Regions from separate parts of the Homo sapiens genome. Here region 2 is linked to region 1. Evidence: fine-mapped expression QTL. Tissue or cell type: whole blood. Region 1 holds a variant in brackets; the other region holds the start of a gene. All regions are shown on one strand. Distances are from middle to middle.

Region 1 (2,764 bases):
TATTACGAAGGCTCCACAAACACCAGAGTAGCAGTGTCTGTGTATGCATCCGAAGGTGAGCCATTTATGATTTAGTTTCAGAGTAAAACAAACAAACAAACAAAAGGACATATCAGAAACTGTGTCGTTGTAAGGTGTAAGCTAGATCTCAAAACACACTTTATAAAGGACTCACATATTCTCATTTAATTGCAATATTACAGGAGAAAGGGAACCTTTTCATTTCTCCACTCCAGTAATTCAAAGGCCTGGGGAGGCTTTCCCTAGTTTCAAGATCCCTAGTTTCATGGTACAGCCATGGTACAGTCTGAAGAATAATACACTGATCCTCACTATTCACAGATTCCATATTTCTGAATTGTGTCTAATTGATAAAATGTATTTGTAACCTCAAAAATCAATACTTGTGGCACTTTCATGGTCATTTGAGAATCCGCATAGAGTGGCAAAAAATTTGAGTCACTGACATGCACGTGCCCAGCTAAGGCTGAAAAAGGGCACACTCTGCCTTCTTGCTGTAGCTCTCAGGCTATTACGCAGGTTCCTTTTCATGGTCTATTTAGTGCCATGTTTTTCATATCTTTGTGCTTTTTGTTGGTGACGTTGCTGTCTAAAACACCTCCCAAGCACAGTGCTGAAGTGCTATCTAGTGTCCTAAGTACAAGACGGCTGTGATATGCCTCACAGAAAAAAATCCACGTGTTCGATAAGCTTTGTTCAGGTATGGGTGATAGCACTCTTGGCTGTAGCTCAATGTTAATAAACCAACAATATATTGATACATTAAGTATGGTGTCTTTAAACAGAAGCACACATAAAACAAGGTTATATACTGATTAGTGATAAAAATGTAATCAGACACCCGCAAGAACCTAATCCTCTATTTCCCTTAGCAGCAAAGGGTTAGTATTTGCTAGTTCAGTGTTCACAGTGACTTAAGAGACCATAACCACTGCAAATAACAAGAATTGATTGTACTTATTGAAATGTATAAGTATGGTATATAAGCTCAAGGAATTATTGGCGAAATGTCTGTCATGCATTCAAAGGGCAATGTATTAACTATCTAAAATCATATACATGAAAAAGACTGTAAGAAACACACAAAACAGGCCAGACATGGTGGCTCATGCCTGTAACCCCTGCACTCTGGGAGGTGAGGCAGAAGGACTGCTTGAACCCAGGAGTTCGAGACGAGACCAGTCTGGGCAACATAGGGAGACTCTGTCTCTACCAAAAAAAATGTTTTAATTAGCTGGGCGTGGTGGTGCACAGCTGCAGTCCCAGCTACTTAGGAGGCTGAGGTGGGAGGATCGCTTAAGCCCAGGAGGTGGAGGCTCTAGTGAGTCAGGATCACGCCACTGCACTATAACCTGGGTGACAGAGTGAGACCTAGTCTTCAAGAAATATACAAAATAGACAATAGGGCTGGTAGGATAGTGGGAACATAAGAGTTTTTCTTTTCTTATTTCTCTAACTTTGGTAATATGTTATTTTCGTAATTTAAAAATAAAATTTCAAATGCAAATTTACTCCCATCCATTAATATCTCTGAGAAAAATCCACAAGTCCTTATTGTCAAGTATATGACTAATACCCTGTTCAGCAGCCCTACAAAAAGGTAATTAAAACCATCTAGAGGCCTGGTGAGGTTTGATTTACTTTTCTGGGAAACTTGGAA[A/C]AGATCTTCCTAGTATGGACCTGATTTATCATCTGACTTTGAAGGTTCTCCTTGTGTTTGATTTCTATTAACCATCTCTTCCACATACTCAGCCTCCTTCCCAACTTCCCCATGGCTGAGAGGATATCCCCGCCCAGCCCTCAGGCTCTCAGCCTTTCAACTCAAATGTCACCTTAGAGAAACAGTGTCCATGACCCCTACGGTAGCCACAGGTCCCATTTTGTCATCTTCACTGCATTTGCCAGTCTGTGAAATTAGCTTACTGATTTATCTGTTCCAGTTTTTATGATCTGGCCCCTGCTTTCCCGCCTTTGCACTAGAATATACAGGGACTGTCTGTCTTGCTCAGTGTTTGACAGCCACCCTACCTACCCCACCCCAACTCTACCACACCTAGAAGGAAGTGCTCAGTAAGTATTTGCTGACTTACTAACTCTTAAGTTTTTCCTGATTCCTCTTTCTCCTTTGACCCCAAATCCAGATATAATCACTTATTTACCTATCTATCCTACTCCAGGAGGAGTTTAAGAATAATTGTTTTTGTTTTTGTTTTTTTTAGACGGGGTCTCTCTCTCTCACTCTTGTCAACTAGGCTGGAGTGCAGTGGCGTGATCTTGGCTCACTACAACCTCCGCCTCCCGGGTTCCAGCGATTCTCCTGCCTCAGCCTCTAACGTAGCTGGATTACAGGCGCCTGCCACCACGCCTGGATAATTTTTGTATTTTTCGTAGAGACAGGGTTTCACCATGTTGGCCAGGCTGGTCTCGAACTCCTGACCTCAAGTGATCTGCCTGCCTCGGCCTCCCAAAGTATTGGGATGAAAGGCATGAGCCGCTGTGCCCAGCCAGTTTAAGAATATTTCAATCACTTAGTAAGACCTTTTAATGTAAACTCCTTGATGTCTCTTGACTTCATCCTGATTTATTTCCTGGGAAACAAGAGAGCTCAGGGTTAGACAGTTTGTTCCCTCTAAGTCACTGTAGTTTATGTTAAGTGGGATTAGCTCCCGGTGGTGTTTCACTGAAAACCTGCTTACCGCTTAGTTGATTAACTGCTACTCCACATAACACATTCCTTCCTTAT
Region 2 (2,764 bases), 50 kb after region 1:
TGGGAATCAGCAGGGAGGCCCTCATTCCTTGTCTCAAAATAACGTCAGCCAGAGTCAAAGGCCAAAGAGGTGGAGCCTGCAGGCCATTTTGCGAAAGTTTCAAATATCTTGGTACTGACCCCATTAAAAAAGCGTGAAGGGGAAGCAGCCAAGCCTCCAGTGGTTTTCTCATTAGTGTCCCCCCTCACCCCAGCCCCACCCCCATTACAAACGTCTGCATGGATAAGAATCAAACAAAGAGATCTTGCATAAAGTCCTATGATCAGTGCTGGCTATTGAAAACAAAATTTCATTTTGCAAACTTAATACCAAAAACTTGACATTAAAAACTTTAAAAGAAATGTGCGTGCTCTGGGACAGCTTAATCCCCCAAGAGATCTCTGAGGCATTAGTATAAGACTGAACAAGCAACTGGTGAGCTGTCCCACCTTCCCCAGAGCCTTTCTTAAATATGCAACTGTCTCAGATTTTCCATACTCCTCTGCTGGTTTTTCCTCCGAAGAGGGAGGAAGGAGACTTCTTGGTCGTACAGTTTAAGAAAGCAAATAAAGCCGCCTTTCTCCCTAACGTAGAGGAGCCCTTTCAACACACACACACACACACACACACACACACACACACACACACACGTGTACTTTTTAAAATATAAATATGAAAGAAGAGGAAGGGAGGGAGAGAGGGAGAGAGAATACGAGACAGATGAAAAGGAAATGCTACTTAATCTTGTCCAGTTTTTGAAAACCTCAAAAAAAAATCAATAGCAAACTAGGCGGAGGCATGTTATTCTCAAAACACACACTCCCTCTCCCGCATTACAGTACTGTTAACAACAGCAAATGATATTACAGATGGAAAAAGCCTCAGGGAAAAAAGCATGAATTGTTAAAGGAATACAAAGTGGCATTACTCTCATGAGAAATGTAAAGGGGCCAGCTGCCCGCCTTCATCTGCTCAGACATTAAAGTACACCTCGCCCAGGACCTCTTGATTCTGACCATGCCCTGCCCCAAACCCTGCCTTCCCGGGTCCCAGGACTCCAGCTGCTCCTCGCGTGACAACACTTGCCCGCTTTGAAAGCCCTCCTGCCCCGCCCGCCGGGTCCTCACCGTGTGGTACATGAGGGCCTCGCCGTCCCCGGGCTCTGACAGCTCGCTCAGCTTGCGGTCCCACTGCAGCACGCCCTGCTCCCCGCTCTCCAGCACCTCCATGGCGGTGCGGGCCGCGCTGGGCCGAGGATGCTAAGCGCAGGAGGGGACGCGCAGAGCTGCCTCGGACCGGCAAGGTTCCTCTCTCTCCGCGTGTGCTTGCGTGTGTGCGCGCGCGTGTCTGTAGTTTTGCACTTGGAAAGCAAACGTCTGCTCCTCTGCCGGAGAGAGGATGGCCAAGCGCTCCCGTCCGGTGTCCTCGGAGATCCGAGAATCCCCAGGGACACGAGCCGGACCAAAGGCTGCCGGGGCTAAAGCGGGATGTGCATCCAAAATGAAGGCAGAAGACCCGCTCTCATCCCAGGAAAATCCCTTAGCCGCAAGCCCACTTGCCGCTACGGCTCCAGACACAAACTTTGAGGGACCCCAGGGCTCCTCGGCTCTGCTCCAGGACCCAGCTGCGGCCCCACCTCCCTCCAAGGCTTGACCAATTGGATATCCGCCTTGCCTAGCAGACCCAATCAGAAGTCTCATTCTCGGCTTTGTCCCGCCCCCAAAGGCAGAGGCCGCGGGAAGTCTCCGCCCACGCCTTGGAATGTAGCCGGGGAGTGTCTGTGACGTCACCGAGGAACTCCTCCTGCTTGAGCGCGGCCCGCTGTCTGCTGTCGCCTACAGCTGACCAATAGAGGGCTTGGGTCCGGAAGTGATGGACTGGAGGCTTGACTAATGTGAAAGGGGCGTCTGAAAGGTACAGCCAATGAAATAGCGACAAGAATACATTTTGTAAAAGAGGGAGGGTGAGTTCAGTCCTCTTGCTGAGAATCCTCAGAAATTTACCAGCGCGCCGACAGGGGGCGCGAGAGTTGTTGCGCGGGGGGCTTAAACATTTTCGAGTACTTTAGTTCATTTGAATCTCTCGGAATTTTTTTAATGGATTACATATTATACAAAAATACAAATATTCCTCATGCACATACATTTATATTAGTGCAGCTCTAGGAAATTGTCATTGTTCTTCACCTTTTTCGCCCATTTTCTGTTGGGTTCTTCTATTTTTTATGGACTTCACTTATTGTATGTTTTTCTTTCATCTGCTTGATAAGAGTCAATGGCATGCTTTTCCAGGTCCTACAGAAGTGAGCCCAGTCCTTGAATTCATAGAGCTTTTATCTCAGAGGAGTCAGGCAATAAACAAAGAAATAAACATTTAAATTCAGAAAGTGGAAATTGCTATAAAGAAAAATAAAAGCAGGAAAACAGGATGCGTCAAGATCGATGCTATTTTACGTGCTGATCAGGGAAGTTCTTCCTAAAGGAAATGAGATTTCGGGGGAAGCTGGTATTCACGTGATTGCTGGGGAGGCCAGTGTGGCTGCAGCAGAGGTGCTTGGCAGGGAGGGGTGGGAAAGGCCAGAAAGGTGAGCCAGGGCCAGAGCACCAGGCCTGCCTCCTAGAATAGGGAAGAGATGGCCTGTTCTAAAGGAATTCCCCCGAACACTGTGATTCTTCTTCCTCCTTTTTAATTCCAAAAATATAGTTTACCTATCTTAAATATAAAAGCAGGTCTTTGCCAGTTAGCTCTAGAAGTTTCTTACAATGGCACATTCAGGTATTAGCTA

The links. PIP is the estimated chance that this variant, and not a neighbour inherited with it, causes the effect.
Region 2: it holds the start of CREB3L2, and the variant in region 1 is fine-mapped to the expression of CREB3L2 in whole blood (TOPMed, PIP above 0.99). The same link has a PIP of 0.9 or more in blood mononuclear cells.

Annotation. Positions count from the first base shown.
Region 1 is chr7:137,950,590-137,953,353 of GRCh38, forward strand. All of the region lies in intron 1 of CREB3L2 (cAMP responsive element binding protein 3 like 2), which reads right to left. CREB3L2-AS1 (CREB3L2 antisense RNA 1) reads left to right here and starts at 2,759. Exons shown (of 4, transcript NR_161346.1): 1 at 2,759-2,764. The variant A/C (reference allele first, on the strand shown) is at 1,682.
Region 2 is chr7:138,000,498-138,003,261 of GRCh38, forward strand. CREB3L2 (cAMP responsive element binding protein 3 like 2) reads right to left here and starts at 1,589. Exons shown (of 12, transcript NM_194071.4): 1 at 1,107-1,589. The coding sequence starts at 1,208. LOC124901752 (a long non-coding RNA gene) reads left to right here and starts at 1,810. Exons shown (of 3, transcript XR_007060551.1): 1 at 1,810-1,893. RefSeq lists enhancers at 614-1,212, 1,129-1,268, 1,213-1,810, 1,359-1,448, 1,539-1,608 and 1 more.